Linked DNA regions of Homo sapiens. The protein of the gene in region 1 purifies or fractionates together with the protein of each later gene. This does not show direct contact. Each region holds a gene or a part of one and is shown on either strand. Other genes may lie near its edges.

What was found.
Region 2: the proteins of CROT (region 1) and DDX19B purify together in Homo sapiens (affinity purification with mass spectrometry; one large-scale study listed by BioGRID and IntAct). This does not show direct contact.

Annotation. Positions count from the first base shown.
Region 1 is NC_000007.14:87,380,072-87,383,892, reverse strand, and holds part of CROT (peroxisomal carnitine O-octanoyltransferase), read right to left. Parts: intron 1,984-3,821; coding exon 1,900-1,983; intron 1,820-1,899; coding exon 1,712-1,819; intron 1,481-1,711; coding exon 1,350-1,480; intron 1-1,349. UniProt on the Homo sapiens protein: Beta-oxidation of fatty acids. The highest activity concerns the C6 to C10 chain length substrate. Converts the end product of pristanic acid beta oxidation, 4,8-dimethylnonanoyl-CoA, to its corresponding carnitine ester.
Region 2 is NC_000016.10:70,326,590-70,330,410, reverse strand, and holds part of DDX19B (ATP-dependent RNA helicase DDX19B), read right to left. Parts: intron 1,120-3,821; coding exon 942-1,119; intron 581-941; coding exon 343-580; intron 1-342. UniProt on the Homo sapiens protein: ATP-dependent RNA helicase involved in mRNA export from the nucleus.

The DNA.
Region 1 (3,821 bases):
TAGCCACACTCCAATGTTTATTGCAGCACTATTCACAATAGTCAAGATATAGAATCAACCTAAGTGTCCAGCAGATGTATGGATAAAGAAAATGTGGGCCGGGCGTGGTGGCTCACACCTCTAATCCCAGCACTTTGGGAGGCCAAGGCACGCAGATCACCTGAGCTCAGGAGTTAGAGACCAGCCTGGCCAACACGACGAAACCCCATCTCTACTAAAACTATAAAAATTAGCCAGGCATGGTGGCAGGCACCTGTAATCCCAGCTACTCAGGAGGCTGAGGCAGGGAGAATTGCTTGAACCCAGGAGGTAGAGGTTGCAGGGAACCAAGACCATGCCACTGCACTCCAACCTGGGCGACAGAGCAAGACTCTGACTCAAAAAAAAAAAAAAAAGTGATATACATACACAATGGAATATTACTCAGCCAAAATAAAAAAACAAAGAATGAAATCCCTTCATTTGCAGCAACATGGGTAAGGCTGGATAACTTTTTGTTAAGTGAAATAATCCAGAAATAGAAAGACAAATACTGCAGGTTCTCACCTATATATGGGAGTTAAAAAAAATTGATCTCGTGGAAGTAGACAGTAAAATGGTGGTTAACAGAGATTGGGATGAGTAGGGGGGAGAGGAGATTGAAGAGAAGTTAGCTAATGGGTATAATGGTACAGTTAGATGGAATAACTTCTAGTGTTCGATAGCACAGTAGGTTGACTATAGTTAACAATAATTTGTTGTATATTTCAAAATACCAAGAAGAGAAGACTTGGAACATTCCCCACACGAAGACGTAATAAATGGTTGAGGCAGTGGACATCCCAATTACCGTGATTTGACCATTACACATTTTATGCATGTATCAAAAAAATCACATGTACCTGATAAATATGTTCAATTATAACTTATTTATCAATGAAAAAGCAACATTGAGGGACTTCTACTTCTTCTTAGGATGTATTAAGTCACAAAATTAATGTCGCTCCTATTCTAAAAATGAGTAAAGGCTGGATAATTTATAAAATCACAACTTTTCATGAACCCATCAGAAAACTGACGTTGCAAGAAAACCAAGCGATCTGAATGCCAAAGATGACCAATCCTCTTTCAGATGAGAATAGACACGTCAAAAGTTATCAAGTGGATACTGTGATAAAGTAACAAGGAAAAACTGTGAAACCACCACAGATCAGAAATCTAATACTCTATTGATGGAAGTACAAATAGGACACAGTACCAGCTGGGAAAAAAGTGAGCAAAAATACTGAGGAGTTAGGATGAAATAGCTATAAAAAAAGATATACCCTTGGACTTCAAGACTGTGAAAATAGAAACTGAATGGTCCTTACTGTCCATGAAGTCTGTAATAGGCCAGCTGAAGTGCAAGCTGAATAAACGTATCCGGGTGAAGCATCTTGTTCTTGGTTAGCTTTTTGCCAAAAGATGTAAAGGCATAAGCCGCAATCTGTAGATCAGATGCCTAACAAGAAGAATTAAATGAGAACGGTGAAAAATCACCTAAGGAGAATACACCAAAGAGAAGCAAATTATCACCTGCATTAAAGTAATCACCAGACATAAAGAATTAAAGGTGTTAAAGGCATAATTTTAAAATGTTTTGTGCAGACATGCTTGGATGACAGCCAAATTTTTACATATGGTTGTTAAAAGAAAAAATCATTATTATTTAAGAGAAAAGTGAAAAATATACCTCCCTGAGATACTGGGCTTTAGCTTGGTTGATGTCATTTAAAACTTTCTCATCCACAATGAAAATGAGCTCTTCTGGAAGTGGTATATCTCGTACCTTCTCTGAACCCTGAAAATAGGGAAGACTTAAAAATATTTTATCTATAGAACTATTAGGAGAAAAAAGATGAAATATTTATTCAAACATACCTTCCATCTTCCTTCATTCTGAAAAATTTTCTCATCCACATAATAACTGATGTTCACCATAATCATTGCATCAAAAGGAGCATGCTAAAATGAGAACACACAAGATTTCTGAATACTTTATGTCAACTTAAAACTTGACCCAATATTTTATTTTCACTTTGTGTCCATTCTTAACAGATAATAAAGCATAGAGTCTTCAAATGCCTCACCTCTTGAGGATATGATAAGATAGAAGATTCCCTACAGTTCAGTAACTGCTATATTTTATTTTTTGGAAAAAAAGTTGTTTAAATTTGGAAGCACCTAGTAGGGCTTCTGGTGGGGCTTGGGGTCATGAGGGTGTATAAAATAACATATAAACAATCTAGATAAATTAATTGCTATTTTTACTAGAAGTCAAAGCAAGTGTATATATGCAACACGAAGATGTTCTGGAATTGTAAGAACAGGGTGGAAAAGCAGATGGGGATGGCAACCTATCTGAAAGCATTTGGGATGGGCATGAACTTCTTTAGGTAAGGACTTAGGCCACTTAGTGAATATTAGAAAGCATAACCATTTTGTGTTTTTTATACATATGAATGTCCCAATGTGATAATTCTCAGTTTAAGAAATGTGGGAAAGATAGGCTGGGTGTTACGGGGCTGTTTCAGGTTTGCCAGGTGTATTTAGAGAAAGAAATTGCAGTTAGTGAATTTTCCCATCATCTATTTTGAAGAACAAAGTTTTTGCCCGCATTTTCCCCATGTTCCTTAGATAAAAGTTACATCAGACGGTTCCTTGTGACTGTCACCACTTTACATTAGACACAGATATCATTCATGATCTGAACGTGACACTGCGAGCTTGGGAGGGAAAGAAGGGAAGTAGTATCAAGATATGGGCCCAGTTTCAGAGGAGTAATTAGGTGTCTTAAATGTCACCCTAACACTATAGCTCTGTAGCCTGTATCATGGCCCAGCGGAGCCTATAAACAGGATTTATTGTTACCAACCAGGCAACAACTACATCAGGAAAGGCTCTTGAGGGAGGTCAGTATAAGATGCCTGAGCAGTTTATCTGCCAACAACAGCACACATGACAAGACTCACAGGTCGCTGACAAACCCATTTTCTAACAGTATCTCACAACTGTGTGGTACTTTACAATTTTACAAAGAATTTTCAGATATTATCAAATATATTGTTTCATTTAAGACAAACAGCATCAGTTTCCAACTATTTTACTGGAGCCAGTAGGAAATAGCAAGAGTGAAGGATGTCTCTTTGAGCTATAATTCTAAGCACCCATCTCCTAATGGAAAGCTAATAATCTCAAAGAAGGTAGAAAATATATAAAATTCCAATGCTATCCTGATGCTTTATTTGTTCACATAATTTTTACCTTTCATTTCTTGCACTTACACAGAGGCAATATGTATTTACATAGTGTTTAAGAATGTAGGCTTTGGTTCTGAGTTCAAACTACTTCCTAGCTGGGCAATAGTAAAAAAGTTACTTTGCTTTCTAATTAAACTGCCTCATTTCCCTGTAGAGATAATGCATACATACATACAGATGCTGTGAAAAATGATTTTTATACCACTTACACAGTACTTACCAAGGATCTAGCTCACAGCAATAATTAGTAACTATTGTTATTATTAACTAAAGTTTTTACATGCTTCCTATGCACCCTCTGCAAAGCCTTACAATAAAGCCTACAATATAGAGAAGACAATATAGTTGACTTCAGGTTTATAAAATAGGAGGGAAATGGAATTAATATAATCACAAAAGAACATATTCAAACAATTAAAATTATGGACCAGCAACATGGCTTTAGGGTAAAATAAGCTTTATTTTACAGTACATATGCTTATTTTTCTTCTTATTATTATTTTTGGGACAGGGTCTTGTTCTGTTGCCTGGGTGGGAGTGCAG
Region 2 (3,821 bases), on another chromosome or scaffold:
TTCACCATGTTGGCCAGGCTGGTCTTGGTCTCCTGACCTCAGGTGATCCACCCGCCTTGGCCTCCCAAAGTGCAGGGATTACAGGCATGAGCCACCGTGCCAGCCGCCCAGCTTATATTCTTAAAAATCTAAAAATTATTTCATTGGCTGTTACTTGGGGTTTTCTCCAAGTAATCACTAAGAAGTGGAATCAAAGTCTCCCTCTTACGACTCACTAAAACCTTAGGAGAACAAACCACTTCGTTTCTTCCCATGGCACCCAGGGGCATCCAGTCCTCCTGAGCCCTGTGGGGAGCTGGCTGAGAGGGAAGGGCCAGGCCTGCCACTGCCACTGCTACTCACATGGCAGAAGATCATGGCTTGAGCAATGGTGATGGCCCCGTAGAGGTTACACAAGGCCTGGAACTTCTCGTCTCTGCTGCTGCACAGGACATAGTACTGCTTGATGGTGTCCAGGGTCTCTTCCTCACGCTTCAGTTTGATAACGTTTGGGTCTGGGACCACTTTCTGGGCAAACTTCCACACAGAGTCTTCAAAGGTGGCGGAGAAAAGCAGCATCTGGCAGTTCCTGGGCAGCATCCTGCAAGGGAAGGCCCTGGTAGGTGGCCCCAGGTGGCCCCGGGAAGCGACAGAAGCACAGCCTTCCCAGCTGGGAGGGTCTAGATGCCCAGGAAGGCTGATGGGAGAGGAGCGTCTTGGGGAGGAGGAGCAGCAGGCCTGGGATGGGGACAGGGGTTGGGGGAGAGTCCCTAGGTCTCCTTTCTCAACCCAGGCTGGGAGGGACTGTGGCCAGCGCTGACACGGAAGTGGCCCGTCAAACAAATGCTGCTGAGAGTACGAGAGCCAAGACCCAGGCAGAAGCCAGAGGAGGCATCTGAAGTGAAGGGAGAAGACACTGCAGATGGGGAATCTGAGGAGTCCCCCACCCTCGAGATCCCTACCTCTGGATGCGGATGCTCTGATCTTGGTGGCCCTGAGTGGCTATCATGACATCAGCCTCATCCAGAACAAACACCTTGATTTTCTTGGGATCAATGAACTTGAGCTTGGAGCACCAGTCCAGCACAGTCCCAGGGGTGCCAATGACAATCTGCTCACTGATCTTCTGGCCTCTTTCCACTGTGGAGACCCCAAGATGTTTTCCATGTGTGGGTATTTCTTTCTTTCTTTTTTTTTTTTTTTTTTTTTGAGACAGAGTCTCACTCTGTTGCCCAGGCTGGAGTGCAATGGCATGATCTCGACTCACTGCAACCTCTGCCGCCCAGGTTCAAGCGATTCTCCTGCCTCAGCCTCCCAAGTATCTAGGATTACAGGCACCTGCCACTGCACCTGGCTAATTTTTTTTTTTTTTGTATTTTTAGTAGAGGTGGGTTTCACTCTCTTGGCCAGGCTGGTCTTGAACTCCTGACCTGGTGATCCACCTGCCTCGGCCTCCCAAAGTGCTGGGATTACAGGCATGAGCCACCGTGCCCGGCCTCCATGGGTATTTCAAAGGCAAAGCCAGCTCTTCTCTCTGAGAAATTCTAAACCTATTATATATTTTAATGCAAATGTTTTGCTGTTTGCATTAATATATTAAGGAAAGGTTAGGATATCACTATAGCATTTAATGGACATAAAAACAGACAAAAATGCTGAAAAGGTAATGGGTACAAAAATACAATTAAAATAAGTAAGATCTAGCATTTGATAGCACAATGTGGTGACTACAGTCAACAATATATTGTACATTTAAAAATAACTAAAAGGGCCGGGCACGGTGGCTCATGCCTGTAATCCCAGCATTTTGGAAGGCTGAGGCAGGCGGATCACCTGAGGTCAGGAGTTCGAGACCAGCCTGGCCAACATGGCGAAACCCCATCTCTACTAAAAATACAAAAATTAGCTGGGTGTGGTGGTGGGCTCATGTAATCTCAGCTATTTGGGAGGCTGGGGCAGGAGAATCGCTTGAACCCAGGAGGCGGAGGTTGCAGTGAGCCGAGATCGCGCCACTGCACTCCAGCCCGGAGACAGACTGAGACTCTGTCTCAAAAAAAAAAAAAAAAAAAAAATTCAGAATTCTCTACCCTTCTAATTCGAATACAAATTGCAAAATTTTAAATGATTATCTCCCAATAAGTTTCACTGTATTATTTACTTTTCAGAACTGGCCTCAAGTTGGCATTAGGACACTGTATGCAGACTTGATTTTCATAAGGTCACATTTGTTTCAGAGATCCATAAAACTCAACCAAACCTCTAACACTTTTTTTTTTTTGAGACAGAATCTCATTCTGTCGCCCAGGCTGGAGTACAGTGGTGCAATCTCGGCTCACTGCAACCTCCCCCTCCCGGGTTCAAGCAATTCTCCTGCCTCAGCCTCCTGAGTAGCTGGGATTACAGGTGTGCACCACCATGCCCAGCTAATATTTTTGTATTTTTAGTAGAGACTGGGTTTCATCATGTTGGTCAGGCTGGTCTCGAACTCCTAACCTTACAATGATCCACCCACCTTAGGCTCCCAAAGTGCTGAGATTACAGGTATGAGCCATCATGTCCGGCCAACAACACTTTTAAAATTACTTAAATAATATTAACTGTAAAACAAACTAGTGTAGAAAAAATTAGTAACAAAAAATAATTAACAGAATAAGCCCCAGAGTCAATAGCCATAAACATTCTGGGTTTTTATTCTGCTAATGAAGATAAATAAATTAGGCAATTAAACAAATTCAGTCCTGGCCTAGTGGCTCACACCTGTAATCCCATCACTTTGAGGGGACGAGGCAGGAGGATTGCTTGAGACTTGGAGTTCTAGACCAGCTTGGGCAACATAGCAAGACACTGTCTTTACAAAAAAAAAAAAAATTTGTTTGTTTTTTTTTGTTTGTTTTGTTTTGAGACAGAGTCTTGCTCTATCGCCCAGGCTGGAGTGCAGTGGCACGATCTTGGCTCACTGCAACCTCCACCTCCCGGGTTCAAGTGATTCTCCTGCCTCAGCCTCCTGAGTAGCTGGGACGACAGGCACATGCCACCACACCTGGCTAATTTTTCTATGTTTAGTAGAGATGGGGTTTCACCATGTTGGCCAGGATGGTCTCTATCTCCTGACCTCGTGATCCACCCACCTCGGCCTGCTAAAGTGCTGGGATTACAGGCATGAGCCACCATGTTTGGCCTACAAAAAAAATTTTTAGAAAATTAGCTGGGTGTGGCCAGGCACGGTGGCTCGTGCCTGGAGTCAGAACTCCAGCCTAGGTGACCTAGCGAAACTGTCTCAAAATAAAAAAAAGAAGGCGGCCAGGCGCAGTGGCTCACGCCTGTAATCCCAGCACTTTGGGAGGCCAAGGCGGGAGGATCACGAGGTCAGCAGATAGAGACCATCCTGGCTAACACAGTGAAACCCCGTCTCTACTAAAAATACAAAAAATTAGCTGGGCGTAGTGGTGGGCGCCTGTAGTCCCAGCTACTCAGGAGGCTGAGGCAGGAGAATGGTGTGAACCCCAGAGGCAGAGCTTGCAGTGAGCCAAGACTGTGCCACTGCTCTCCAGCCTGGGCGACAGGGCGAGACTCTCTCTCAAAAAAAAAAGAAAGAAGTCTGGGCACAGTGGCTCACACCTATAATCTCAGCACTTTGGGAGGCCGAGGCAGATGGATAACCTGAGGTCAAGAGTTTGAGACCAGCCTGGCCAACGTGGTGAAACCCCATCTGTACTAAAAATACAAAATTAGCCAGCCATGGTGGCAGGCACCTGTAATCCCAGCTACTTGGGAGTCTGAGGCAGGAGAATCACTTGAACCCGGAGGGCAGAGGTTGCAGTGAGCCAAGATCATGCCACTGT